Regions from separate parts of the Homo sapiens genome. Here all the other regions are linked to region 3. Evidence: fine-mapped expression QTL. A gene starts in region 3. Each other region holds a variant in brackets. All regions are shown on one strand. Distances are between the middles of the regions. Region 1 has its middle 15 kb from the start of KLF5. Region 2 overlaps DACH1 (dachshund family transcription factor 1). Region 3 holds the start of BORA (BORA aurora kinase A activator). Region 4 has its middle 130 kb from the start of KLF5.

Evidence for each region. PIP is the estimated chance that this variant, and not a neighbour inherited with it, causes the effect.
Region 1: its variant is fine-mapped to the expression of BORA in whole blood (INTERVAL, PIP above 0.99).
Region 2: its variant is fine-mapped to the expression of BORA in lymphoblastoid cells (GTEx, PIP above 0.99).
Region 4: its variant is fine-mapped to the expression of BORA in visceral fat (GTEx, PIP above 0.99).

Annotation. Positions count from the first base shown.
Region 1 is chr13:73,040,426-73,048,196 of GRCh38, reverse strand. No RefSeq gene overlaps it. Among named protein-coding and RNA genes, the nearest start is that of KLF5, 15 kb to the left of the region's middle. The variant G/AG (reference allele first, on the strand shown) is at 4,146.
Region 2 is chr13:71,829,075-71,836,845 of GRCh38, reverse strand. The region is part of intron 1 of DACH1 (dachshund family transcription factor 1); the gene reads left to right. Among named protein-coding and RNA genes, the nearest start is that of DACH1, 34 kb to the left of the region's middle. RefSeq lists an enhancer at 4,525-5,130. The variant T/C (reference allele first, on the strand shown) is at 3,903.
Region 3 is chr13:72,723,305-72,731,075 of GRCh38, reverse strand. It overlaps BORA (BORA aurora kinase A activator), which reads right to left and starts at 3,153. Exons shown (of 12, transcript NM_024808.5): 1 at 3,069-3,153; 2 at 1,983-2,150. The coding sequence starts at 2,135. It overlaps MZT1 (mitotic spindle organizing protein 1), which reads left to right and starts at 3,447. Exons shown (of 3, transcript NM_001071775.3): 1 at 3,447-3,552. The coding sequence starts at 3,474. RefSeq lists enhancers at 2,872-2,921, 3,642-3,711 and silencers at 3,132-3,281, 3,805-3,986, 3,942-4,001.
Region 4 is chr13:73,183,288-73,191,058 of GRCh38, reverse strand. No RefSeq gene overlaps it. Among named protein-coding and RNA genes, the nearest start is that of KLF5, 130 kb to the right of the region's middle. The variant G/A (reference allele first, on the strand shown) is at 3,810.

The DNA of each region.
Region 1 (7,771 bases), 320 kb before region 3:
AGTGAGACTCTGTCTCAAAAAAAAAAAAAAAAACAAACAAAAAACCACCAAACAAACAAACAAAATAAAAATAACTAGTTATATAAGAGAATATCCTTTTTTTAAGGATACACACCCTGATTATTCAAAGGAGGTAAAGGCCATGATGTGAGCAATTAACTGTAAATCAGGAGAAAAAAGTCTGTGTGTGTATGTGTGTCTGTGAGAGTGTATTATATGCATACTGAGAGATATAAACAGACATAGAAACAGATATACAGAGAGAGAGGCAGATGTGGCAAAATATTAATGATTAGCAAATCAGGATGAAAGTATATGGGAATTCTTAAAAAAAAAAAAAGTTTAGCCAGACATGGTAGTGTGTGCCTGTAATCCCAGCTACTCGGGAGGCTGAGGCCGGAGAATCCCTTGAACCTGGGAAGCAGAGGTTGCAGTGAGCCAAGATCGTGCCACTGCACTCCAGTGTGGGCGACAGAGCAAGACTCCGTCTCAAAAAAAAAAAAAAAAAAAAAAGAATGGGAATTCTTTGTATTATTCTTGCAACTTTTTCTGTAGGTTTGAAATCATTGTGAAATAAAACTAAAAACAATAAAAGGAATAACGTTTGAAGACTTTATTTTAACAGATGAAATTCTGCTGTCTAGGACTGGTCTTCGAGGATTTGTATTTATAGAAGGTTGAAAGTTAACTTGAAGAAAACCCAGCACTAATCCACACAAGCAATTCCATCTCAGTTCAAACACATCCCTTTCCTCTGTCTTCATGGACTAGTCATTTCTCTGTCATGATGGCCTCGATGTCTTAGGTGCCACCACAGTTACCACAGTTATCAAACTTGTTTTTATTCTACACCCATGGTGCAGTTTCTGCCGTGTAGCACACTAAATGCTTTGAATGTATGAGAATGAAGACAACACACACACACACACACACACACACACACACACACACACACGAGGCTCCAGAGCTTTAAATGAAAATGTCAGAAAGAACATTACTGCCGTTATGTCTTTAAAAAATATTAGGATAGGCCGGGGGCGGTGGCTCATGCCTATAATCCCAGCACTTTGGGAGGCCAAGGCAGGTGGCTCACTTGAGGTCAGGAGTTTGAGACCAGCCTGGCCAACATGGTGAAACCCCATCTCCACTAAAAATACAAAAAAATTAGCTGGGAGTGGTAGTGGGCACTTGTAATCCCAGCTACTAAGGAAGCTGAGGCAGGGGAATCTCTTGAACCCGGGAGGCAGAGGTTGCAGTGAGCCAAAGTCATGCCATTGCACTCCAGCCTGGGCAACAAGAGTGATACTCCGTCACAAGAAAAAAAAAAAAAAGGCCGGGCGCGGTGGGTCACACCTGTAATCCCAGCACTTTAGGAGGCCAAGGCAGGCAGATCACGAGGTCATGAGATCGAGACCATCCTGGCTAACACAGTGAAACTGTGTCTGTACTAAAAATACAAAAAATTAGCCAGGTGTGGTGGCGGGAGCCTGTAGTCCCAGCTACTTGGGAGGCTGAGGCAGGAGAATTGCTTGAACCCGGGAGGCGGAGCTTGCAGTGAGCCGAGATGGCGCCACTGCACTCCAGCCTGGGCGACAGAGCAAGACTCTGTCTCAAAAAAAAAAAAAAAAAAAGGTAAACATAGTAGAGGCAGTGGTAATAATATGCACAATTCAAACAATAAAATATCAATTTTATTTTAATGTAGTTTTGATTAGGTGTTTTTTGTTTTTGTTTTTGTTTTTGTTTTTGAGATGAAGTCTCACTCTGTTGCCCAAGCTGGAGTGCAATGGTGCGATCTCGGCTCACTGCAACCTCCACCTCCCGGGTTCAAGCGATTCTCCTGCCTCAGCCTCCCAAGTAGCTGGGACTACAGGCATGTGCCACCATGACTGGGTAATTTTTGTATTTTTAGTAGAGACGAGGTTTCACTATGTTGGCCAGGCTGGTCTTGAACTCCTGACGTCGTGATCCGCCCGCCTTGGCCTCCCAAAGTGCTGGAATTACAGGCGTGAGCCACCGTGCCCAACCTGGGTTTAATTTTGAAAAGCCAAAAAACCTGCTGTCAAGGACCATGGGGTTTGATCTTAGTGGGGCCATCCCGACATCGCGCTCTGCAATGTGTTTGAGAAGGCAGATCTGAGGTAGCATGAAATAAAGACCCATGCCAGGCACCAGTTGGACTTTAAAGATATATCTTTCAAATGTGAAAAATACTAGATTCTTCTTTTTATGCCACCAGAACGTTTTGAGGAAATGGGATCCTTTTTTTTTTTTTTTTTTGTTTGAGACAGAGTCTTGCTCTGTCGCCCAGGCTGCAGTGCAGTGGTGCGATCTCGACTCACTGCAAGCTCCACCTCCTGGGTTCACGCCATTCTCCTGCCTCAGCCTCCCGAGTAGCTGGGACTACAGGCGTCTGCCACCACCCCCGGCTAATTTTTTTTTTTTTTTGTATTTTTAGTAGAGATGGGGTTTCACCATGTTCGGCAGGATGGTCTCGAACTCCTGACCTTGTGATCCGCCCCCCTCGGCCTCCCAAAGTGCTGGGATTACAGGTGTGAGCCACCGCGCCCGGCAGAAATGAGATCCTTAACACTGTTCACAACATTATTGTTGAGGTTTGGAATCCCAGACATAATGAGCAGGGTGGCCTAATGGCACGTGGCAACAGAAGACAGAGCACACACAAAGGATGATTGAAGAGATGCCGATGCAAATTGCCCACAGCGTGTATGTATGAGGGAGAAAGGAGTCATTGAAGATTTTCCTATGATAAAGTATTTTTAAAACAACCAACAGATACGTACTGGACTCCTATGAGTAAAAACACTGAGAGTCCAGACAAAAGCGAAGCTGCTTCAGTTGAATAGAATCCCATCTAGTTTAAGTTACAATATATACACATGCAAAATACAAAACTTTATCATGTCCCAAATGCATGGTGAACCAGGAAGAGAGAGATCACTGTGGACTTTGATACTTGGATTAACCCTTAAAGAAAGCGCAAGTCTCTGCAAACTGCAAAACGGTAGATAGGAGGAAAGCGGAGGGAATTCCGGGCAAGAACTAGCTTGGTGCTTAGGGTTCAACACAGATTACATAAATTGATGAGAACAATTAGCCCCTAAATGGATCAAATCAGATTTCTCCATGATGTGTAAATAATTTATGTAATAAAGTCCAGGAGAATTTCTAACATAATGGAAAGTCTTGTGAATCAGTGTGATCATAAAGTTAAAAGACATAGCCAGGTGCAGTGGCTCATGCTTGTAGTCCTGGCTACTTGGGAGGCTGAGGCAGGAGGATTGCTTGAGCCTATCAGGTTGAGGCTACAGTGAGCTGTGATCTCACCATTCTCTCCAGCCTGGGTGACAGAGTGAGACTCTATCCCCTGACAAAAAAAAAAAAGTTAAATGATAAGTGACCCCTCTACCCTCAAGTTCCCAAAATAGTAAGTGACTAGGAGAAATTATTTGCAGCAAAAGATTAATATTCACAATCACAAAAGACATTCTTTAAAAAGCTATTTAAAGAAAAAGATAAACTGGCCAGGCATAGTGGCTCACGCATGTAATCCCAGCACTTTGGGAGGCTGAGGCAGGTGGATCACCTGAGGTCAGGAGTTCGAGACCCGCCTGACCAACATGGAGAAACCCTGTCTCTACTAAAAATACAAAAATTAGCCGGGCGCAGTGGCTCACGCCTGTAATCCCAACACTTTGGGAGACTGAGGTGGGCAGATCACAAGGTCAAGAGATTGAAACCATCCTGGCCAACACGGTGAAACACCGTCTCTACTAAAAATACAAAAAAATTAGCTGGGTGTGGTGGCACATGCCTGTAATCCCAGCTACTAGGGAGGCTGAGGCAGGAGAATCACCTAAACCCAGGAGGTGGAGGTTGCAGTGAGCTGAGATCACGCCACTGCACTCCAGCCTGGTGACAGAACGAGACTCCATCTCAGGAAGAAAAAAAAAAATTAGCCAGGTGTGGTGGTGGGTGCCTGTAATCCCAGCTACTTGGGAGGCTGAGGCAGGAGAATTGTTTGAACCCAGGAGGCGGAGGCTGTGGTCAGCCAAGATCGTGCCATTGCACTCCAGCCTGGGCAACGAGCAAAACTCCATCTCAAAAAAAAAAAAAAAAAAAAA[G/AG]ATAATGCGACAAACAAAAAATTAGGCAATAGGAGTAAATAGGCAATTCACAAAAAAGACATACAAATGGCCAATAAACATAGGAAAAGATTTCCAACCCCCTGACTATGAGGAAAATGCAAATTAAAACAGTAATGGAATAGCATTTTGTTCAACTGATGTACAAAAATGAGAAAGATTCCAGGAGGATGTAGAGGAAACTGAAAGTCTCATAATGTCAGTAAAAATATAACTTCTTGTGGACTTTGTAAAATATATATCTGTACAGAGGGCAATTTCATGGATCTGTTAAATATAAAATTTCGGCTGGGTGTGGCGACTCACACCTTTAATCCTAGCACTTTGGGAGGCTGAGGTGGGTGAACTGCTTGAGCTCAGGAGTTTGAGACCAGCCTGAGCAACATGGGCAAAACCCCATCTTTACAAAAATAAAAAATAAAAAAATATATATATGCATACACACACACACACATAAAAGTGTCATACACTTTGACATTCCATTTTTAAGAATTTGTTCCTCAAAATTATTCAAATGTGCACAAAGATAGGCATAGCAGAATGTTTATTGCAGCACTGTTTGTCATAATGAAAAATCAGCAGCCATCTAAATATCCAACAGTAAGTATGTAATGATCAAGTAAATGATTAAGTAAACTCTAGTACATCCACACCATGTACTACTATTCAGCAATTTTTTTTTTGTTGGAGATGGAGTCTGGCTCTGTCACCAGGCTGGAGTGCAGTGGCGCGGTCTCGGCTCACTGCAACCCCCACCAGGCTGGAGTGCAGTGGTACACTCTTGGCTCACTGCAACCTCCGCCTCCCAGGTTCAAGCGATTCTCCTGCCTCTGCCTCCCAAGTAGCTGGGATTACGGGCACGCGCCACCACGCCCAGCTAATTTTTGTATTTTTAGTAGAGATGGAGTTTCACCATGTTGGCCAGGTTGGTCTTGAACTCCTGACCTCATGATCTGCCTGCCTCGGCCTCCCAAAGTGTTGGGATTACAGGCGTGAGCCACCGCACCTGGCCTATTCAGCAATTTTAACAGAATAAAGTGTCTATATCTGTACTGACACAAGAAGATCTCTAGGCTGGGCATGGTGGCTCACGCCTGTAATCCCAGCAGTTTCGGTGGCTGAGGCAAGAGGATTGCTTGAGGCCACAAGTTTGAGACCAGCCAGGCCAACATAGCAAGACCTTGTCTCTATTTTAAAAAATGAATAATAAGGCCAGGCGCGGTGGCTCACGCCTGTAATCCCAGCACTTTGGGAGGCCGAGGTGGGTGGATCACGAGATCAGGAGATCGAGACCATCCTGGCTAACATGGTGAAACTCTGTCTCTACTGAAAATACAAAAAATTAGCCAGGCGTGGTGGCAGGCGCCTGTAGTCCCAGCTACTCGGGAGGCTGAGGCAGGAGAATGGCATGAACCCGGGAGGCAGAGCTTGCAATGAGCAGAGACTGCGCCACTGCACTCCAGCCTGGGCGACAGAGCGAGACTCCATCTCAAAAAAAAAAAAAAAAAAAAAAGAATAATAAATTTTAAAACAATAATACAAATAAAATAAAATAAAGATACAAAGAGAAAGAGAGGCCTTGTGTTTACCTGTTTAAAAAATGTTAGAACCTCACAATAACTGAGTTTAGTTTCTTAATCTACTCCACATATGCTGTAAGATACAAAGCACTGGCAGCAGCTCCTGAAAAGGAACCAGCAGAATGATCAATGTGATGCTTGCTATGTAGCATTTTACAAAGTCAACTTATGAAAGAAAGTCTGATCCTTTCAATTTTCCTGCCCAATTATTTTCGGTTGATATGTCTCTGGAAAATCTCTATCCCTCTCACCATGAATATTTGATTAAGTCTATTCATTTTTTTCCTCCATAAAGCATCCTGGTTTACACTTCGCCTTGTTTGTTTGGTGAGGTGGTTGAATGCATTTGTTTGTATGATCCTGGTAATATGTCATCATTGGAGTTATAATATGTTAATTTTTCAGAAATTTACAAAAACTAAAGAGAGGATACTTAATACCAGTGCCACCTCAATTCAGTGATATCAGTATACAAACACACTGGCCATTGTGACATGTAGCAACAATCCAGTATGTTTAATGTTTAAGAAGCCAAGTCGGCTGGGTGCGGTGGCTCACACCTGTAATCCCAGCACTTTGGGAGGCTGAGGCAGGTAGATCACAAAGTCATGAGTTCGAGACCAGCCTGGCCAATATGGTAAAACCCTGTCTCTACTAAAAATACAAAAATTAGCCGGACGTGGTGTTGGACTCTTGTGGTCTCAGCTACTCGGGAGGCTGAGGCAGGAGAAGCGCTTGAACCTGGGAGGCGGAGATTGCAGTGAGCCAAGATCGTGCCACTGTACTCCAGCTTGGGTGACAGAGCAAGACTCCGTCAAAAAAAAAAAAAAAAAAAAAAAAAGAAGCCAAGTCACATTTTTTTTAAGATGGGATCTTTCTTTGGTATCTAAGCTGGCGTGCAGTGGCGCAATCATAGCTCACTGCAGCCTGGAACTCCTGGGCTCAAGCAATCCTCTTGCCTCAGCCTCCTGAGTGTAGCAAGGACTACAGGCGCATACCACTGCGTCTGGCTAATTTTTAAATTTTTTTGTAGAGACAAGGTCTGTCTTTGTTGCCCAGGCTGGCAAGTCACTTCATAGGAACTCATGTTTTGCAAAGATACAGGCAATAACACATTTTTTATGATAGCTTGGTAAATCTCTTAAAAGGGAGAGGTTTATGGCAGAAATGATAACGCTCTAACTACATGTGTGTGGTTAACTCTGTTTCAGCCATTCAAGTTAACTTCTACCTATATTTATGGGCTTGATTGCATAATGTATGAAGTTTGCAGGAAGTACCTGGAAGATAAGGTTACATAGACAAGTTATTTAAGTTTGAAAATAAACCACAGCTCATGCTGGGAAACTAGTTTATAGACAATTTTGTAACACAAGTGAATACGTCATTCATTTTCTTTTAATATTTTTCTTATCGCATAGTTAACATTAGGAGATTAATCATTGTTTGACTGTGCAGCATAGTAAGTTAACAGAAAAATGTAGCATCAGGGATTGATTAGCTGAAAAGTCAGTGAGTTACATTATAGAAGCGAAGATAAAGACTTGATGATATTTAAACCATCCAAACAAATGGATGATTTGCATATATGATGATGTCCCACTGGACAATGGTTTTCTTCATGAGCGTCATTCAGTAGTAAGACTCAGGTCTACTGACAAATATTGCTTGATCAACATATCATTTGCCGCAAGAAATGACCTTTTATGGTTAATGTGTAACTGATTACTGTTCTTCCTCTATAGTAGCCTACATTTTACAGCAGAGAAATACACTGTGTACACTTAGTGCCCTACAACACTAAAACATGTCAAATGGTGGTGGTATACCTTCATATATTATGATATTTGGCATTGTGCAATGGTTATGACACATTTGCAGTGCGTTCACCCTGTGTTTCAGCTCTTGTTATATGCAATAAAACTTTTGCCACAATATTTAGATACTTAGAAAAATCAAGACTATTTTTCTTACAAATTAAGAAAAGAAGAACTAAAATCTCTCATGGAGGCAATAGAGGTTTGAAAG
Region 2 (7,771 bases), 890 kb after region 3:
AAAGAATTAACATAATCAATAAGCAAATTACGTTAAAAATAGGACAGAGTGAGAGAGCTTGGGGTATGAAGAGTGGGATAGGTGAAATTTTAAATAAAGTGGTCAGAATGAGGCCTACCTCACTGAGAAAATGACATTTGAGTCAATATTTGAAGGCGATATGAAGAGCTCAAAGGCATTTTAACAGAGCTTATTTTTCTTTGCATTTTCTCTCGCTTTGGTTTCTAGCTTAGTAGAGGAGGGAAATAGGAAGTATGGATCAGAGTTAATGCTATAAAGCTTTGCATTATCTACAAGTAGGAAAATATTACATTTTTTTTCCTGCAATTCTAAGGGACAAGAACAAACTATGCTGCAGATAAAAACTAGGTTTTAAGATCTTTTCTCTGCCACTTGCTGGCTTGGGGATTGTAGGCACGTTTTTTAAAGTCTGTGAGTCTTAGCTTACTCGTCTAAAAGTGGAATAATCTTGGGTGACATTAAATGAAATTATGCATATTAAGCACTTAGCACAGTGAGAGACATAATAACCACTCAATAAACATTGACTATTAATTTTTATTTAATATTTTAGTCTTTTTTTTTGGAAAATGTAGAATTCTTCATAGCCTACCAAATGGGACTTTCTCTCTAATGAGAAATATCTAGAATACTCTATAATGGTACCTTTTTTCTCAAGATGGTGAAAGGAATAAAATGTGTGATTCAGAATTCTTTGGCTAGATTTATTATTAGGCAATTATTGAGCAAGATAAGGTAAGACTATTACCAGTTCCTGAATCTGAGTACCTATGATAAACTGTGTTCAACCGTTCTGCTTTTAATTGGAGTATTAGTGAACTATTTTATTTTTTCAAGTTGGTAAATAGCCTGCAGTGATTACCATTCACTTGGTTTTGTATTAAGAGGTATAAATATCTTAAATACAATAGAAAATTTCCAGATCTCTGCGATTTTATGAGATAGTAGAAGATTTGTAGGAGAATGTTAGAAAATGAATCTGTATAAACTTTAATGTAAACTTCTTTAAAGTGATTTTTTTGTTGTTGTTTGCTAGAAGATTGACTTTCATCACTTCTTTCATTCCTTCAGAGTGGCATAGATAAGGTAACCATAAAATTAATTAGCCGAACTAGGACACTCTTGAGAATAAACAGAAACAATATTACTAATTCTGTTGGGACAATAGGTATAAACTAGGACTATCATGGGCAAATGGGGATATATACAGTCATGGACCAATAGGGCCTCTTTTTTTCACCAATACATAAAGGATCAATCACCAGTAGCTTAGAGATGAGCAGTTTTTAAAAAGTCTGAGATAATTTTTACCTCTGGGATAATTTTAGGAGACAAGACAAAATTACCTTACTTGGAGGCAGGCCAAGAGAACAGGATTCTTACCCTTGTTGTTTTATTTTCATTTTAATAAGCATTACAGAGTTTCTCATGAATGACAGTGATTGCAAAATTGATTGAAAGCTCATTTTAATTCAGACTTCTCCATACAATATTTTTTCTTTAGTTTACTTCTTCCAGTCCTTTTGCTCTGTTTCTTGTATTTGTATACATCTCAGTAAACAAGCCTTTATTTGCCTTGGCAAGCTCTAGGTATTTTATTCATTAAGTGAACAGGCCGGTTTCTTTTCTAACAGACTGGTGGTTACCATTTCAAACAGCTCCCTTTGGTCTATTTTGGTCTTATTGTGACTCTCTGAGCCAACATTTCCAAAGTTTTCACCAGCAAATATGTAGGAAGAACAATGAATTTTGGTGGGGAGTTGAGGAGAAATGGGAAAAATTTTGGCAAGCTTGCTTTTCTGTCTTCTTATCTGTTTGGCAAATTCCTGGGCTGAGCCTCAACACTAAATTTCTCTCCCTGCACATGGACAAACACTGAGAGAAAGACAAATGTGGGAAAAGGGAGAAGTAGAAAAAGCAGAGGTAAAAATGCAATGCCTGGGATTTTCAGAATGCCGACAAATATGTGGGTATCTATTCAGCTTCCAAAAATTATGCATCTTCTCTGATTCCCAATGCAAAAATGTGCACATGATTTCTTTGATCTCAAATGGGTATTATTCCCAATATCGTATTAAAGTCCCAATTTTTGAAATGGGAAAACGAAACCAATTTAAGTAGTGCATCAGATGCCACTTAAATGTTAAGGTGGGTCCACCCTTTATAAAATGAGAGAATTGGTCAAACATAGGCTACAGCGGGGTGCGGCGAGGCAACAGAGCCGTTAAAAAGCGTGTGGAATTCTATGCTGAATTCTTCAAGTTCTGACTTCATTCATGGGACTACTTTCTTTTATATAGATAGTGATTCCAGAAATAATGTCCCATAATAGTATTTCAGAGGTGCTCTTGGGCACAATAGCTCTAGATAGTGGAGATTAGGTAGATATTTGGGGTCTTACTTCACGGGCGTGTTATATGAGAACCTTTGCATCATCCATTTTGCTTCTAATCACGTTTTCCATTTCTGGTGTGTGCTTCCCTCATAACCCTGTTTTTATATCATAACGTTTGCTGTATCAGCACCCATTCTCTTTCCACTGCTCAGTTTTAAATAGCTTCATTATGAAAAATATAGTACTTAAAAACATGGCACAAATGTGTATTACTTCAGCACAAGATAAAGAGATTACTGAGAAGTGCACTGACTGCTGAAGTAACTTTATCCTAAGGGATATTTCGCTACTTTAATTGATTTTTTCTGTCCATTTTATTAAGAGTCCTTGGAGAAGGTAAATGGTAGGTTACCTCCTGGAAACAAAGGAACATTTGACGTATTTGTTATGACTACCAGTGTGTCCATACTTTTGTAAAGTTAAACATTTTTTTCATCATCATTTCAAAATTACTTATACTGATGAATAAAAAGATGAGGATCAGTTAGTTCCAACCCTAGATAGGGTGTACTTGAATTTTAAATATCTTGTGCTATTTCAGAGAATTAATCTACGTTTTACTTATTTATGCTAGTTAATAAATTGTAGTTTTGACAAAACTAGGGATTACAATTTATTGTATCAATTACTATTAAAACATTTTAAGACACTTTTTTATTTTAGCTTCACAAAGCCATCCTAGGCAAAACTGCATGACACTGTCGAAGGTCTTTAAGTGGCGTCTCTCACTGCTCTTAGTTATAAAAGTTTAGATGAATGAATACTCTTATAAATCAAAAAAGCTTATAAAGTACCCAGGCTGTGTCACCAAATCCCATAGTTGGTGTGGGCTCTGAATTGTGATATTCATACAAGTTCAGGAATAGTTAAGTTCCAACATTATCACTCCCACCTGAAATTAGGATACTGTAAAAAAAATTATGATGCTACACAATATGTTTATAAATCTCTGTTTTAGTCTATCAACATCGTTGTTTTCCATCATTCTCTCCACTTATACTTCAAGTAGTAATGTGTACAAATTAGGTTAACGGATGCTTTCAAACAAAATTTAGTTTAAATTTGTTTATTCTCTTTATAAACAAAGATAAACAAAATAAAAAGGATGAAACTATGAGACTTTCATGAGCCTCTTTAAATAACCTAGCTCTGTATCTGGGTGAAAGTGACCTACATCCACTGGACCATAGAACCCATCCCTCAGTGGGTCCTGGGGCAGGTATTTCTCACTGAGCATCCCTAATACTCCTAGCCCAGGTGCTACAGATGAATCTGATGCACTAGGATTCTTTTACATCAATGTTGGCTCTCTCTTACAAAATGTTTTCTCTTCTTGTAGCTTTCAAAACGTTCTATTCACATAGATCTCAGAAGATTCTGAAGGGAGCGCAACTTCCCTGTTAGCGTCTTTCTGAAGCTATATGGATTTCATTAAAAATAAAAATAAAAATAAAAAAGTAGGGAGTGGAATTCAGATTGTTTTACT[T/C]AATTGTCTTCTCTCAAAAAAGAGGAAAAATAGAGATAAATTAATTACTCCTCTTTTTAGAATAGTAGGAGTTATCTATATATAAAAACAAAGCAATTTAATGTTGGCTTGGTCATTTAACTTAAATACAATTGAAATGAGAATAAACAAAATGAAACAAACTGCTTTAATTGAACCTAGGTGGCTGGATATCATGCCTTCTCTTACATTTTTACATTTCCAGTAGTAGAAGATGTCTTATTTTGAGAAGCTAAATTGATCAAGGTCTATCATTTGAACAAGTTCCTCTTCTATAATAACAAAAAAAATTTAGGTAGTTCTAACTCTAGCTATGATCTACTTGATTTTTAAGTATAATTTTCTATTTGGGAATATTCAACATCAGTTTTAGTCATCTACAGCCATTTTTTGACAAGAATGGAGATTGCAACTTATTTTATGAAAATTTACTATTAAAACATTTTCTTAGTTTAACTTTTTCTGCTTTTTACATTAAAAACAAAAATCGAAACACTTATTTTTTTATGTTTATGCAGGCCCCATGCATTTTAGCTAATACTTACTTTTGACAATATCTAACATGTTGGAGTCAAATTATTTTGCTATTGGGGAGAACAATACTCTCATTTTTACCATGAATTGTTGCTTTATTGTTTGTATTCCATGGCAATGTTATACATTTTGAAGAAATAAATATTCTCTTCCTTTGTCAATAAGAGATCCACTTCATTTATTCCCATTTAGTTGTCTTCTCTTTGTCAGGATTTAGACTAACGAGAAAATCTTAGAAAGATCCTTTACTGTCTAAACACCAAGCACGCAAATGCTTCTCAATAGAAATAACACAAGAAATGCGTTCAAAGACAATACCTAGCCTGAGAAATTCTTGTGTGCTGACAGCTCTCCAACAGTGTTGTCACAGCAGGAAGACATCAGTTGAAGAAACAGATAGTGACCTCAAAAAAAAGTCTGGTCAGCAGTGTGGACAGGGTTTCACAAGATTATAAATCACCCCAGGGTCGCTCTGTTCCCACCATAAAGAGAGCATGGTCGTTTTATTGTAATCTAATAAGAGATGGGAGCAAAGGACAGCTCCAGTGTGTGTTTGCAAAAAAAATTCTTGATTACAGTTTCAAAACTATACAGTTTCCCTGCTATTGAAGTGCAGATTATAGGGGTTAAGGCCATGTTAGGATTGGATTACCTTTTTATAGCTGTATGTTATCCCTCGGTTCATGAATCAGAAAGTACTTAAATTAAACTGAACATTTGGGAGCAATCCCAGTATGTAGCATGGTGGTAGAAAATTAATCATGATTTTGTGATAGATTATTAAGCTGTTCATTTGAAGGGGGTCTTTCATAGAATCAGAAGATTAACTCTCTGGTGGGTATATAGTAGTACAGAAAAAAGCCCACCCTATATATCACAAGTTATGTTAGGACTCATTTTAGAGGGGAATGATTTAATGAAAGACAACATGCATTTATATAAAAATGTGTATGAGATCAAAACATCACTAGCAGATTTTCAGTTTCTCGGACCTTACTATTTTTTTTTAACTTGTATTTATTAGTTTCTATGTTTATTTTTATATAATACTATTTAACTTAAACCATGTGGTTACTAAATATTTTAAATGGGGCATTTTAACATGAGAAAAACTAACAATTCCATATTCGAAATATTTAGGAATAAAAAAATTACTCCAGTTAGATTAAGAGTTACTGAGGAAATAGTAGCCACAATTTTGAAGGAAAACTCTAAATGTGATGACATTTTAAAATAGCACATGCCTCTTCATTTGCCCTAGAAGCACTTCATGTGGTGGCGAAAAGGCTTTAACTTTATTCAGTCATTTTATCGTTTGTACTTAAGCTTCTTCAACACTATTTGATCTATATACATTTCTGGGACCATAATCAGGCATCCTACCATTTAACTAGATTTTATTCCCTAACATATTGCCTTTGCTTTGTCAGTTTGTTCCTCTGGAACCATGCTGACATCTCAAGATAAGTCCTATCAGTCTTGGGCTATTGACTGAATTTGATTGTGAAGAAGCCATCACTTAGAGTAGAGAGAAACAGGGTGAGGTGTTATTGCTAAGAATATACTTTATGTTATGGTTCTAAAATCCAAAAGTAAATAAGATGGGATTGGCAGCTCTTCCTTTTTTATTAGGCATAAGATAGATTTTGAGAGCTCTTTTTGTCTTGTCTTCTTTTCCCTTCAGGAGTCACAAACCTGGTAGTTTTGCTCTCATTTACTTTCTTGAGCAGAGATGAACGTGAAAGGGAATTCTGGCTCTCGAAGGATATTAGACTGGTCGGTTAAACATAGTGGGTCTTTAATTCATCTCAGTTTATTTTCCACTTGTCAATTTCTCTTTGTCTCTTCCTCATTTATATATGCTTAAGTAGGTGAGTAGACAGATTTCACTGTTTCTCTTTGCCTTAGACTTTCTCTAGTGCTGCTAAAAGCACTACGACAGGAACTGGAAACTGGAAATGATCAATATCCAGACAAGTTCTATTATTTTTTGAATATAGAAAACATTTGTGACTTCTACAACTTCCGTTGGCTGAAAGAACAAAAGCTCTGGGTGTCACTGCAACTTCAAGCTGCAAATGACCAGAACAATAGTACTCAATTTCTTATTCTAATTTACGCTAACTTGATTCTGTTTCCTATTGGCTATCATAAGAATTTTGCCTATATAAATAAGATAAATTTGATTGCAACCTCTCAGATATTTTCTGAATCTGTTAGTGTTGTAGGTGTGTTTCGTATTCTTAACTTTTTTACTACTTATGTTAGTAAAAGATAAATGAATATATCTACTTAAAATATTTGGTGATTTTAAGAAAGTAAGCTATTCTGATTTCCTATAAGTAGAAAACATATCATTGATCATTTATAGTGGAACTACTCCTCTATTTTTACACTCTCCCTAGGTAAAGCATACAAATTAATTCACAGCAACCACCATCTAACACTGGAATTTCTCCTAAGGCTAAGACTTGTGCACAACCATCTGTTTTACATATGCATTTTTTTCTTGGTAATCTTTATTACTAGATGGTCTCAAATAGAAAGTACATAAGTGCAAATGCCAACATGTATTTTTGTTAGTGGTGCTGAATAGACTGGTTAAGGTAGACAAACAAATGTACTTACTTTGATTTATCACTTCTGACATTAGCATGTACCATACTGCTCTCCGGGAAGCAAAATGGTTGCACCTGAGGACAGTGATATAAACACTACTTTGATTATTTGAAACAAACCATTAGGCTTTGATGAAAGAACTATTACCATGGTGGATCCTTTGCAGGAAGAGAATGCTTGGAGATAATGGATGAGCAGCCTAAAATTACTTGTTTAGAATTTAAAGAAGTCAAAGCCTAGGTTTGAGGAGGAAATAAGTATATAAAGCAAATTTAATTTTGTATAAATTTATACAGTTGAATTTTTATTCCCAGTACGTACTTAGTTGCAGTGACTTTCTTGTTTTAGATGAAATTTATCCAAATTAGACAAACTTATTCTAAAGTCAAATTAATTGTGTTTGAAAATTAAGTCCAAAGTCATTCTATTCTATTTTTCAAAAATAATTTCCTAAGATCAGGATTTTATTTATTTGCATCTAGAAACTACCATATGTTTTGTCTTACATTTAAACACACACACAAAACCAAGCCCGATGATGACTTCAATACATATTTATCTTATGTGATTTGTAGATGGAGATTATACTTGGTCAAAGCATGTATATAAAATAGAACCACAAACTATTAAAACTTCCCCAGTCTAAAGAAATTTTATTTAAAAGGTACAATTTAAACTAAAATATTTAAGTTTTTGAA
Region 3 (7,771 bases):
CTTTGTTTAAGACAGAGTCTCGTTCTGTCACCGAGGCTGGAGTGCACTGGTGTAATCTCAGCTCACTGCAACCTCCACCTCCCCGGTTCAAGCGATTCTCCTGCCTCAGCCTCCTGAGTAGCTGGGATTACAGGCACCCGCCACCACACCCAGCTAATTTTTGTATTTTTTTTTTTTTTTTTTTTTTAGTAGAGATGGGGTTTCACCATGTTGGCCAGGCTGGTCTCAAACTCCTGACTTCAAGTCATCAGCCCACCTTGGCAGTGCTGGGATTACAGGCATGAGCCACAGCGCCCAGCCTGTATCTCTTTTAAAATATCAGAATCTTTCACCTGGGTTGGAATTACGTAATACGAGAAAAATCACAACAGAGTAATAAAGATATAAAACTTTCACAATTAACACTCATCAGTGTGATAAACTAAGCCCATGTAAAAGTAAAAATCTCTCACAGTTAACAAACGTCTTTACTTTCACTAAGAAGGAACTGAAATTAAAGTCCTTAGTCACTTTGGAGGTGGCTGCAAAAGCTCACAACATAGTTGATCCTTAAAATAATTATGAATGGCAACCAGTGCTGCCTTTCTGTACTCAACCATGCAACTGAATTAAAGGTTTATCCAAATCCTAATCTGTAATTAGAAATATATTCTAGGCAAATTCAGTCCTAAAAACGCAAGATGCCATACATTCCAACTTTGAGGATTAAGCTGCCGTCAATCTATTATTTATTTTTAGTAAGACCAAGAGATAAATTTTAATGATTCAATTAAAAATCATAAGGTCAGATTGATGAAATGACTCAATATAAACTGCTCGACCTTCCACTAGTACATACTTGCTCATTGTAAAACCTGTATGAAAGTGTAGCAGAAACAGCCACCCTATTTGCAGTTTTTCTAAGTAACTTGGTAGGTTGAAAGATCCAAGGTCAAAAGAACTTATCCAGTGTAGCAAATAACAGTAAAATAAGATAAAGTGGCCCGGGCATGGTGGCTCATGCCTGTAATCCCAGCACTTTGGGAGGCTGAAGTGGGTGCATCACATGAGGTCAGGAGTTCGAGATCAGCCTGGCCAACATGGTGAAATCCCATCTCTACCAAAAAAAAAAAAAAGATAAAGTGATGAAGCCTTTTCTAATATCCTGAAGAACACTTTTCCTTCATATTACTATTGTCCTAAGTACTAATCATATCACCTATCACACTGCCTTGATATTACTCATCTAGTTCTGTTTAACACATTAAAATAGGGGTTAGTTTCTTTTTATAATAGATTGCAAGCTAAGAATTATTTTGACAGTTTCAAATGGTTGGGAAAACAAACAAAAAAATATCTTGTGACATGTGAAAATTATATGAAATTCAAATGTGTCCATAAATAAAGCTGTATTGGAACAGAGTAACATTTATCTCTTTACACATTGCCTATGGCTGCTTTTGTGATACAAGACAGAAGTGAGTAGTTGTGACAGAGACCAAATGACCTGTAAAGCTTAAATATTTACTGTCTGGCCCCTAACAGAAAGTTTGTGACCCATACATCGGAGTATAACCTCCTTAAGGATTTGTGCCTAATGATCCTAACTTGTTCACAGTGTAATCCCTGCTTAGCACTGTATCTGACACATAGCAACACTCAAATAATGTTTGCCAAATAAGTGAGAACAGAATATTAGATGATGCAGCTTCTTCTCTAATGTATTAGTAGCTATATCGTCAACCACAGAATGTAGCTACACCCACAACTGCAGGAAGCTAACGTATGTTCTTGAACTTAAAAAAAAAAAAATCTTCTAGCTAACTTATTAACCTAACCACTAGATTATAATGAACACTACAATTTAAAAAAGTATATTGCAGCTATATATGCTCCATAATGTATTTCCTCCTTACCTTGTAAAGACAGATGTTTACATTTAAAATTATTTGTAATTACTTACATTTAAAATTAGTTGTAAACACTAGTCAGGAATAACTTACTGGTAATTTTGTTGATTTAAAAACAGAAGGACTGGCGAGAGTTTGTTCATGGAGATTAGAATAATCACTAGGACTTTCAAAAGGATTTAAAACAGGGATCCTTCCTGGAGTTTCTGGTGTTATTTGCATCTTTGATTCCTTGACATCTCCCATAGCACAGAGAGAAAACTAAAAAGAAATCAAGAGTATGCATGTTAAAATTACAAAGTCCCATAGATATTAATTTTAACTATTAAAATGTACTCGACAAATGTGTCACAAAAAACAACTCAAAACCTCACACTCTTGGGGCTATGATACAGCTTACAAAAAAAGTATCACATATAAATGTTCTCAACTGATCCTCGAAACAACCTTGAAAGCTATAGCAGTAACTTACTAGTGATATTATTTTGCGAAAGTATTAAGCTCAGAGAAGTGAAGTGGCTTATACGCAGCAATCAAATATGAATGAATTCAGATCTGCCTCTGAGGAAACTAAAGGTTACAACAGGCCCAGATCTCTTCTCAACTAAAGGACTTATAGCTACAATTTTTTTTAAATTCATCATCTCATGTCTCAACACTATGAACATTCTTCGGATACCCTATCCAACTACAGTTGCTATTAAACAATTCTTTGTAGCAAGCAGGTAAGAGATGAGGAAGCTTGTGCCTTTCTTGCACATGAGTCCTAGCCAGAGAAGTATGATTGACAGGGGCTAGGAAATTAACTGCCTGGGGTCCCCTTTCCTCCAAAAATCCTCCTTTCGCCAAGACCTCCCCTCCACCCCTCCCGGGATAGAAAGGGAGACTGCATTACTTGCAATCAAAGGAGGCTACAGAGGCTACACCTTGGCGGGGTGGGGTGGAAAAGAGTCTACTTCTGGAAGGTTGAGATGCAGCCGGCTTCCCTGGATGGAGTGCGAAGGAGGCGTCGCCCCCAACCCTACGTGGCCACTCTTTCTGGTGCCCCTCTCTTCCACACCTACTCCCTGACTGCTCCCATTCACCAGGGGCGAGCGGGCAGGCAAGTCAGGAGCTGGGAAAAGAAACCTCTCCATTCAGACAGGAGGAAAGGCCAGGGACCACAAAGAGCGTACCTACCGGTGCGTACAAAACGAAGCCCCCAGTACCGACTCCAGGGAGCTCCGGGGGCCAGGCCAGCTTCCACGACAGGCATAGACTCTTTAACTCCCCGCTTCCGCGCTGTCTTGGGCCAACCAGGGCACGGGGCTTGTGAGCGACTAGCCAATCGTGTCGTCCCGCCATCCGCGAACCAGCCAATCGCACGGAGGCCGCGTAGGAAATTCGAATGGCAACTCCTCGCTCCACGTTCCGCGCAGAGGAACGTGGCTCCAAATTCAAATCAACGCAGCCTCACGCCGGCGGCGAGCGCGAGGGGCGGAGCCTGCCCGGCGTGGGCCGAGACGCGCTGTGTGATTGCCTCGGAGAGAGGAAGGCGCTCCAGTTCCGGGTCAGGCCCTTCTCCCGCCTCCCTCGGCCTTAGCCATGGCGAGTAGCAGCGGTGCTGGGGCGGCGGCGGCGGCCGCGGCGGCGAATCTGAATGCGGTGCGGGAGACCATGGACGGTGAGTTTCCGTTGCGCTCCCTTTACCTTGCGTGCCTTCCCAGAGCCAAGGCCCCCAGGCGGGAATGAGCCTGGGGAGGACTTCAGGTCCCCTTAGTGCCCCAAACGGCATCTTCCAAGATCTTTGGTAGGGACCTGCCAGGGCCGCAGGGCTGATGGCCCTATCCCTTGAGAGTTGTCTCCGCCGCTGCGTAGTTTGTCGCGCGCGCTAGGCGTTGCGGCCCCTAGTCAGCCGGTTGCGCACCGCGTCCCTCTCGCGCGAATGCCGCGCCCCCTCTATCCCGCATCCCAGGTCCGCCCTACCCGCCCGATCTCCTGCGGTGACAGCGTCACGCCCACCCCACCCAGTACACCCGTTCCCTCCTGCGTGCCGCGTCCCACCCGATTCCCGCCCGGGGCGCTTCGGGGGTCCCCAAGGTTGGGATCCCGGCGGGGACAGGGGCCAGGTGTTTGGTCACCGCTATGCCTCCTGTTCTTCGCACTTAAGTAGGCACCTTTAATATCCGGCGAATGAACAAGTTCCCCTTTGGTCATAATTATCCTAGTTTCCTCTTGAAGCGGGTGACACCAGTGCCCAAGTGCTATGGTGTCGCCTGTTTTCGGCCCCGGAGGCACGTGTGTGTGAAGCCTACACAAGTGTTGCAGAACACGAAATTTGTGTCTTGCGGTTACCCTCTGTCTACCCTCTAATGTCGGTTCTGCCACTTTATGCCCCTGTGGTGAGCTTGGACTAGATACTTAAACATCATTGAGCCTGTTTAGTTTTTTTTTTTTTTTTTTCTGTAAAATAAAACCCTACCTCCAGGAGTTGTGAATATTTAAATAAGACAACCATGTAAAAACATATCAAAGATGATCAATTATTTTTATATTATTTCAGATGGCCTCTCTCTTGTAGTCTTCTTTCTTTGTCTCCTTTTTACTCACATCCACCTGTATTATGAGTGTTTGATCGATGTTGTTATTTGCAGTGGGCCTAGACGTTTTCCAGGGTCTACTCACGTCAGCTTCCGTCTCTGTTAAAAGATAACCCTATGAAATTCTCACTGCTGTATCTCTCTCTCCTTCACCGTAGGCTCTTTTTTTCTTTTTTGAGACACAGTCTTGCTGTAGTTGCCCAGGGTGGAGTGCAATGGCGCAACCTCGGCTCACTGCAACCTCCGCCTCCCGGGTTCAGGCGATTCTCCTGCCTCAGCCTCTGGAGTAGCTGGGATTACAGGTGCCCGCCAGAACACCCGGCTAATTTTTTGTATTTTTAGTAGAGACGGAGTTTCCCCATGTTGGCCAGGTTGGTCTCGAACTCCTGACTTCAGGTGATCCACATGCCTCGGCCTCCCAAAATGCTAGGATTACAGGCGTGAGCCACCATGCCCGGCCTCATTTTCTTATGTAGCACTTGCAGAGGGGCTGCTGGCTTTTTCTGCACTGGTCCTGGTTTTCTTTTCAAAGAATTACACTTTTAGAGCCTTTGCATCTAATTTTTCACTTGTTCAGTATCTACCTTGCTGTTTTTCTGAGAATGTTACTCTTAATATTCAGCTTATTTTTCTATCCTTTTCGATGTATCAACACTTAATAGTTTTATTTTGTAAGTGGATTTATGTATGAATATATATATGTGTGTGTATATAAATATAAATTTACTGTCTTGTATATTTCCTTGGAAAAAGGTAGAGTATAAGACCTCACTTCTAGCCTATTTTCTTAGGTTAGCTGTACTTAGGTTCCTTATGTATATGGCCACAGGATCCCATTTGAACAGAAAACTCACATTTTCTCTGGTGGAATCACTGATGTACAATTGAGAACTGATGGTTTGTGTTGGCTGCATCATCAAGATCTCTTCTGAGAAAACTTGGTGTGAAATGAAGATTATAAAGAGAGTAAGAACACAAAAAAGTGAAGTAAAACAAAAAATGAAGGAGAGGGGATGTGGTGTTACACAGTATTTAAATCAACCCGTGAGATCAAAAATAAAATTTTCAAAACTTTTTGAATACCATTTCTCCCCTCAATGGTAGCATTTGTGAACCTCCCTTTAAGTCATGTGAATTGCAGAACTCTTGGCTACATTTGCATTTTGATCATGAAATGAAAGGATTTTGTTAAAGACATGGAAGGAAGCAGGCTAACTTTCTATTAATAAATTATCTGTGCACCTCACTCTGAAAAGAACTATCTCTGCCAATTTAGAATAAGGTCTGCATGAGATCTCTGCTTTCATCCTTATATCCCTAAAATTCTACACGCTTAAAATAGTCGTGCCTTTTCAACAACACCCCCCTCGCAACCCACTGTGTATGGTTGCCTCTTTTGCTTTTCAACTTTTTGGTATGTTAGGTACTCTCTATTGATTGCTTTTTATACCTTAATTTTTATTTTCCTCTAAAATCGTCCTGTGCATCTGAATTTTAATTTTGATAATTATTCCTTATGAGAGGCTTTATCATAGCACTATTTTTTTTTTTTTTTTGAGACCGAGTCTGGCTGGAGTGCAGTGGCGCGACCTTGGCTCACTGCAACCTCCGCCTCCCAGGTTGAAGCTGGGGATGGGAACCAATTCTCCTGCCTTGGCCTCTGGAGTAACTAGGATTATAGGCGCCCGCCACCACGCCCAGCTAATTTTTGTATTTTTAGTAGAGACAGGGTTTCACCATGTTGGCCAGTCTGGTCTGGAACTCCTGACCTCAGGTGATCCACCCGCCTCAGCCTCCCAAAGTGCTGGGATTATAGGCGTGAGCCACTGTGCCCGGCCTGTAGCACCACTTTACATATATATATGTGTATATATATATATATATATATGTATATATATATATATATTTAGTAGTAAGTACGGGTGCCTGTAATCCCAGCTACTTGGGAGGCTGAGGCAGGAGAATCGCTTGAACCTGGGAGGCGAAGGTTGTCGTGAGCTGAGATTGCGCCACTGCACTGCAGACTGGGTGACAGAGCTAGACTCCATCTCAAAAAAAAAAAAAAAAACACGTTATAGAGAAAGGAGTTAAGAGAATCTATGGTATATAGATTCCATTTGACTAGCACTGCAAGGCAGTACCAGCGAAACAGTCCATGCTACCACCATCAATCCAGTTGCACATTTGAGAAAGAAATCTAGAAGTCAGTCTTGCTTTCTCACCTCCTCTGCCTCCTGTTCTTCACTAAGCCCTTTCAATTCTTGACTCATTTCAGGTTGGCTAAATATCTCCTGTTCATCCTACCCACCAGTCTTTTATCAAAATTGTGATATAACTGGACTTTTTAAAGATTCATTTGATACTCAGCCAAAAAGTCCTTAAAATGCAAGTTTGATTTTTTTATGTTCCTATTTTATATCATCCAGTAGCTTTCCACAGTTCTAAGATCTTCACTAGGACTTACCTCATATTTTATACCCATTCACCCCGTTAATTACATTGCCTTCACAATAGCAGTTCAGGTCTGAATTTACCAAGTTCCCTCTAGTGTAGGGACCATCACACAAGCTGTTTTCTTTGCTCTCAACCATCACCCTTCCTCCTGCCTCTGTATTAGTCTGGTTGATTTCTACTCACTTTTGATGTCTAAGTGTAATTGTCACTTCTTCAGACAAGTCTTTGCTAAACACTGTGTCCTTCCAAACTTGGTAAGATGCCCTTGTAATTTGTTTCAGAAGTATTCCACTCTTTATTTATTTTACTTATATCTGGAATCAGTTATTACTTTAATATCTATCTCTCCTCCTGGACTAATATCTGTGAGGAGTGGGACCATATATACCTTGTTCATAACTGTATTTGCAGCAGTAGCATAATAGGCACAAAATACATATAGTTAGAGGTTGATTATCTCTCATCCAAAAACCTTGGGACCATGTTTTGGATTTCAGATTTTTTTTTTTGTAATATTTTCACATACATAATGAGATATCTTGGGGATGGGACCCAAGTCCAAACACAGAATTCTTGTATGTTTTATATATACCTTATACACATAGCCTGAAGGTAATTTTGGTTTTTTCCCTCAGGGATGCTGAATGAACTGTGTATTGTGCACCTGCATTTTGACTTTGATCCATTATATGAGGTGTGGAATTTTCCACTACGGTGTTATGTCAGTACTTAATAAGTTTTGGATTTTGCGGCATTTCACATTTCAGATTTTGGAATTAGGAGTGTTCAACCTGTACTGATCATATGGTAGGCACTAAAGAAATAGTTTTTGATTACAGGCGATTTGTG
Region 4 (7,771 bases), 460 kb before region 3:
TACTAGATATTTTTTGGTGTTGCAGATTTTTGCTTTTTTCTGAAAAAAGTAATAAGCTTATTGTAAGATGAATCCTATATTTGAAAATCAACATGAATGGAGGCATAATAGCTATTAGTTTTGCCCATCTGCCACTCTTTCTCCGCTTTTCCTTCTGTGAACAGGCACCACCAACTTCACAACAGGGTTTTATGGGACTCATCTTGGAGTCTCATCTCTTCCTGGACACAGCAATTGGTTCAGGGGTGGACGCATGAACCAAAAAGAACTACTGGGAATCTTCCCAAAATGTCTCTGCCGGGCTGCCAAAAGAAGAAGAATCTCTTATTTCTCGAGTCACTAAATCAAGGGCTGCCTGCCAGACATGTCATCCTCTCCCTCACCTCCTCCACGAGGGAGAGAGTCAGGCTGCCATGGAAGAGAATGGAGCTGGCTTCAGAAGGAGGCAGAGACGAGACAGACAAATAGAGAGGCCAGACATCATTCAGGTTCTCAGTTCCAGTTGTCACTAAAGCCAGTGAGACATTTTAATCTGGTTCCATTTGTCAGTGCATTTCCTTTTGTTGTTTAAGCTAAGGTGGGCTTCTATCACCACAACCAAGAGTCTTAACAATTCAGGATGAAAGTGAGGATACACAAAATCAGAACCTTGGTAATACTAGTGTTTGTTTCTTTGGATAAACAAGCAAATGCTGCAAAAGAACTCTAGAACTTCTTCCCATTCACCACAAAATGTAAAGAGATACTTTCACTTTCTTATGAAGTTTCTCATTCACTTGTCATTATCTGATACCCACACAATATCAAAGACTTGCAGTGTCTTTCTTACATTGTTCCTATTATTACATATTCAAAAAAAATCTTGTTTTAACTTTTCTTAGTACATTATCGTATCAGTACCTTTGCATTTAAAAAAACAAACTTTAAGAAATGATTAACAATTTCTAATGCAAGATACCGGTTTCTCTCATTCCCAGGAGAAGGAGAAGATGAATGCCTCATAATAGGATTTAGAGAGAAAGAAAAAACAGCTTTCCTTAGGCTGTTTCGACACATTGACATGAGAGATCGCGCTGCCTGATCTCAGCAGGGAAGAGCTTGAGGAAGGCAGGAGATGGGCTAGGAAACAATGGAGACAAACGAGGTGCATTTGCGAAGACCCCCACCATGGGTTCTCCTTGCACAGTTTCTTCAGTTGATTTGGAATGCTATAAATTTCTGGAACACCAGACACACCCAGGTTCCAGTGCAAGTACAAAAACATATCCCACGCCAAATCCAAATTATTTTTGTATCATCTACCATTTGAGATTATGCCCTGTTCTTCCCCTTTCCCTCAGAGCAGATAAGCAAGAATCAACTGTGTAGTTATTAACTAAGAAAAAGAAAATGGGATGAATGGGTTGATGGGAGATGCTGCAGGGTCACAATGGACGACTGAGCAGAAGACTGTTTGGTATCACATCCCCAGCTCGATCAGTGGCTTATGCAAGAGACTGAGTAACTGCTTACCTAATTTTACTGCTAGGTGAGAACAACATGTCCTTCCTCCTTCCTAGCATGCTATGAAAACTAAAGAGATAACATCTTAAAATACTTAAATACTTGGAAAAAAATGATAGCATAGAAACATGATATTACCACCACACTCCAAGGTAGCATATATTTTCTTCATACACAGTACAAAAATTTTCCATAACAGACCCCCCAAAATTTGAAAAGCCAAGGAATTCCTACTTGCTTTGTGAGTAAATCTCTTATCAAGAGCTTAGAGAATGTAAAATTCATTGTGCACATGTACCCTAAAACTTAAAGTATAATAAAAAAAAAAATTACGGAATTTTTGTTAGTACTCTGTGTGTCATAATTGGGATTATATTTTTAAATAAGTTATCTTTTAGAGATATATTCAAAATACTTATAAGTGATATAATGTCTGGTGTTTTCTTCAAACTAATCCAGGAGAAAGGAAGAAAAACAGCATGGTAGTATAGATAAAATAATTGGACAGAGTTTATAATTATGGAAGCTGGGTGATGCATATCTGGGGATGAATTATATAATTTCTCATATTTTGTATATATTTAAATTTTTCATAATAAAAACATTTGAAATGCTAAAAAAGTTAAAGTAAAAAATAAAACAAAAAAAAGAGAATGTAAAATTTAACCCTCTGCTATGTGCACTTATTTGATTTCAATAAATGTTACACATATTCAAGTGAGAAGAATATTTGATCAAACACTTTAACCAAGGATTAAAATGAAGTCTTTATAAATTATATATGAACGTTCCCTTAGTTTTGGAGGAAATAAAAAAGTATAATTTCAGGGTTTTTTTATTCTAACTCTATTTTGGAATTTCAAAGTCACTGATACCTTTAAAAGATATATATTTTTTAAAACTTATCTAAAAGGCAAATATGACATGGTCCTTACTACATAAGATGAAGGACTTTAGTGGCTTCTAGACTTGTACATAAGAAATTGAAATTTTAACTTCTAAATTTCAAGTTCAGATCTATTAATCACAATTGCAAAGTTCCAGGAAGAATTTTATGCAAAGTGCTGTAGATACCTAAATATGGATTAGGTCGGAATTAAATCTATTTCAAGTTAAGTGCCAACTCTAATCACTTGTTAGTCATTTCTAGAACCCTGTATTTAAAAAATTCTGAGGTCACATCTAGTTTTAGCAATACAGAATACTGTGATCAATTGACAATGTCTGCCACAGGCTCAGAAATGGGACATGGTGAGCACGGTGACATCAATGCATTGTATGTGCCGTCTCTGGGGTATAAAGCAATTGTCCCTTAATATAGTAACACTTTCATTGTTAGTGATTACTGTCTAACTCAGAAGTTATTTGAATTAGTCACTGTTCTCCAAAAAAAAAAAAAAAAAAAAAAACAATATATAGGATGGAAGGAGAGAGAGAGAGAGAGAGAGAGAGAGAGAGAGAGAGATTTATTTTAAGGAATTAGCTCACACAATTCTGAGGGCTGGCAAGTCTGAAAATTTAGAGGGGAGCCCAGCAGGCTGGAGACCCAGAGAAAAGCTGATGTTGTAGTTTAAGTCCAAAGGCTGTCCAGAGGCAGAATCCCTTCTCCCCCAGGGGAACCTCAGTCTTTTCTCTTAAGGTCTTCAACTGATTGGATGAGGCCCCCCAACCTCACGGAGAGAAATCTGCCTTACTCAAAGTCCACTCATTTAAATGTTAATCACATCTTTAAAAAAATCTTCACAGCAACATCCAGACTCCTGTTTGACACAAATCTGGGTACCATGGCCTACCCATGTTGATATAAAAACTTAAACATCACAGCATTAAGAGTTATTTCTTGGCCGGGCACAGTGGCTCATGCCTGTAATCCTAGCACTTTGGGAGGCCGAGGTGGGCAGATCACCTGAGGTCAGGAGTTCAAGACCAGCCTGGCCAACATGGCAAAACCCCATCTCTACTAAAAATACAAAAATTAGCCTGGCATGGCGGTGGGCACCTGTAATCTCAGCTACTCGGGAGGCTGAGGTAGGAGAACGACTTGAACCCAGGAGGTGGAGGTTACAGTGAGCCGAGATCGCGCCATTGCACTCCAGCCTGGGCTACAAGAGCAAAAACTCTGTCTCAAAAGAAAAAAAAAAGAGTTATTTCTTTGTTGACAATGTACTAAGTGCAGATCTCATGTTCTTGACATTGCCCAAACAGAATCATCTCACTATTTCTCACGATGATCCTCTGATGAGTGTATTATTATCCACTCTTCATAGATAAGCAAAGCAAGCCAAGATGTTAAGCAACTTTTCCAA[G/A]GCCAAGAACTAATCAGTTGAGAGAAGTCTTGCTAAAATAATGCTGTTTCAATGTTTCTCCAACCTCACTGTTTTAAATAGCATTTCTCTACATATCTACATAGCCTACATATATATATATACACACACATATATATACACATATATACACACACATGTATACACACATATACACATGTATACACACACATACACATGTATACACACACATACACGTGTATACACACACATACACGTGTATACACACACATACACGTATATACACACACATACACATGTATATACATGTATACACATGTATATACACACGTATACACATGTATATACACACATGTATACACATGTGTATACACACATGTATATACACATATATACATATATACACATATATACACGTGTGTATATACACGTGTGTATATACACGTGTGTATATACACACATATATATATATACACACACATATATATACACATATATATATATTTTTTGGAGACAGGGTCTCACTTTGTCATGCAGGCTGGAGAGCAGTGGTGTGATCACAGCTCACTGAAGCCTCGACCTCCTGGGTTCAGGCTATCCTCCCATCTCAGCCCCACAAGCAGCTGAGACCACAGGCATGTACCACAACACCCGGCTAATATTTTTTTTTATTATTATTTTTGGTAGAGAAGGAATCCCCCTATGTTGTCCAGGCTGGTCTTGAACTCCTGGGCTCAAATGATCCTCCCATCTAAGCTTCCCAAAGTGCTAGGTTTACAGGTGTGAGCCACCGTGCCCGACCCTCTACATAACCTCTCCAAAACCTCCCTAATTGCTTTACTCTCCCTCTGCATATGAATATACATAGGTCTATTCCATTTCATACTGTACTTAAACAACATGGGTGTTTCCCTACTAAAACCTTTCTGATTGCACCCAATTTCTTAAACGCTGCCTCTGCTTCCCCATCTCTCACTCCCCTTCTGCCACAGGATTCAAAACTCAGGAGTGATGGCTGAAGGCGAAAGCTCAGATTCTCTCCTCAGTTGCACTTCTGCGCTCTCTCTTGGTACCACTTGGCACTACGGACGCCCTTTACCCCTTGAGACACTCTCTCTCCCCTCCATGGCTGCCAGGAAAGTCCCACACACTCCTTCTCTGTTTGTGACCATTTTCTGTTTCCTTCAATGGAGCCATTCTTAATCTTGGCTTTCTACACACCTGGAATGTCTCTGCATCCTCTTCTCCAGGGTTCAGCAAGCTTTCTGTAAAGGACCAAATGGTAAGCACTTTAGCCTTTGCAGGTCATAGGGTCTCTGCTACAAGTGCTCTCCTCTATTTTATCTCAAATGTATCTGACCCCAGACAATACTAAAAGGATGGGTGCGACTGTGTTTCAATAAAACTTTATTTATTGGCACTAAACTTGAATTTCATGTAATTTTTATGTGTCACAAAATATTATTCTCTTAAAACAATTTCTCCATGATTTAAAGGCCATTCTTAGCTCACAGGCCATATTAAAACAGATAATGTACTGGGCAGTAGATTGCCAACACCTACATTATAAACCCTAAATCATCTTTAAAATCTAGGTCAAATTCAACCTCCTCCCTAGAGCCTTCTGTAAGTACTCTAGGGTAAAGTGACATCTTCTGCCTCTAAGTAAACACATCTGATAACTCTCATTATTATCTGTTTCATATTCTCTATTGTCCCCTGACCTCTAAAACAAGGTTAGGTCGGGGCGCACAGTGGCTCACGCCCATAATGCCAGCACTTTGGGAGGCCAAGGCAGGCAGATTGCTTGAGATCAGGAGTTCGAGACCAGCCTGGCCAATATGGTGAAACCCTGTCTCTGCTAAAAATACAAAAAAAAAAATTAGCTAGGCATGGTGGTGGTCGCCTGTAATCCCAGCTACTCAGGAGGCTGAGGCAGGAGAATTGCTTGAACCTAGAAGGCAAAGGTTGCAGTGAGCTAGGATGGCGCCACTACACTCCAGCCCGGGTGACAGAACGAGACTCCTCTCAAAATAAAAATAAAATAAAATTAAAATTTAAAATAAAACAAGGTTAAATATTTTACTGATTTTACACTTTTCACGCATACAAATCCTCTCTCTCTCAGATTGCAAAAAACCTTAAGAACCGAAACAATGTCTTCCATTTATATATCCTTCATGGTGCCTTGCAGATTGTAAGTCTTCAATAAATTCTGGTTTGTAATACAATGTTAATATTAAAAATACATATAAATATATATGTAAATACATATAAATACGTGTGTGTATATATATATACGTGTGTGTGTGTGTGTATATATATATATATATATATATATATATATATATATACACATTTTTTTTTTTGAGACAGAGTCTCACTCTTGCCCAGGCTGGAGTGCGGTGGCACAATCTCGGCTCACTGCAACCTCTATCTCCTGGGTTTAAGCGATTCTCATGCCTCAGCCTCGTGAGTAGCTCACATTACAGGTGTGTGCCTCTATACCGGCTAATTTTTGTATTTTTGGTAGAGACGGTGTTTCGCCATGTTGGCCAGGCTGGTCTCCAACTCCTGGCCTCAAGTGATCCTCCCGCCTCAGCCTCCCGAAGTGCTGGGATTACAGGCATTGAGCCACTACACCAAAATACATATATTTTAAAAGACTATGTTGTCCAAATAAACTTCTCTCTTGCACAATACATTGAGTGAATGGAGGTCTAAATGCCCGCTTTATATCAGGTACTGATAAAAGCTTTTATATACATTAATACATTATTTCAATTAACTGTCATGACAGTCCAGTGATGTAGGCAGCATTATCTCCCTTTTACCAAAGAGGAAGCTGAGGCTCCAAGGCAATTGAATTGCCCATGTCATCGAGATCTTCTAACTTTGAACTCCACACCTCTACATTTGCTTCAGTTCAGAAGGAAGAATTAAAAAGACTTTTTTCTAATAATCGTAATTATTATCATCCCTTTAGGAAGCATATGGCCATGGATGAAGAGGATGAAAGCAAGTGTAAAGTTCAAAAATGCTCAAGGAACTTATTTTACCCAGGCTCCTCTACTCGAAATCACTTCCATCCTTGACCTCCCAATCCCATCTATCACCAATTGCTGATTCCAGCTCAGTGCTACCCACTTCACTCTGCTCTGCTAAATACTAATTTGTCTTCCCATCTCAAGTCATGCCTCCTTCCCATTCATTCTTCACTCTGTTATCAGAATGACCCTTCTAAAACACAAATTTGTTCATATTACTTTGCTGCTTAAGCCCTGCAAAGATGTCCTTTTGCCCGTAGAAGGAGTCTACACCACTTGAAACGGTACATAAAGCTCTCCACATCTGCCGGGTGCAGTGGCTCACGCCTGTAATCCCAGCACTTTGGGAGGCTGAGGCAGCAGGATCACCTGAAGTCAGGAGTTCAAGACCAGCCTGGACAACATGGAGAAACCCTGTCTCTACTAAAAATACAAAAAATTAGCTGGGCATGGTAGCACATGCCTGTAATCCCAGCTACTCCAGAGGCTGAGACAGGAGAATCACTTGAACCCTGGAGACAGAGGTTGCAGTGAGTCAAGATCACGCCACTGCACTCCAGTGAGGGTTACAGAGCAAGACTCTGTCTCCAAAAAAAAAAAAAAAAAAAAATTCTCCACATCTGGACCCTACCCCTGACCCCCACCTCACCTGACCCCTCATGTGCCTTCATGCTCGGTGCTCCAAGTTCTCACAGTTGCTCCATCAGGCCATAGACACTGTACTCAACCACCGCTCTCATGTCTGTTCTCTTCAGTAAATGGGAAGACAAAGGGAGACCTGGATATGAGTGGCAGCAAGAGCACCATGACAAAGGCACAGGGTCCCATGCCTTGGAGCCCATGGCTTAGAATTCTCTTCTCCTTCTTCTTTACCTGGCTAATCTTCACTCTGCAAGGCTCATCTTTTGAATAAATTAATGAAGACTTCCTCTTCTC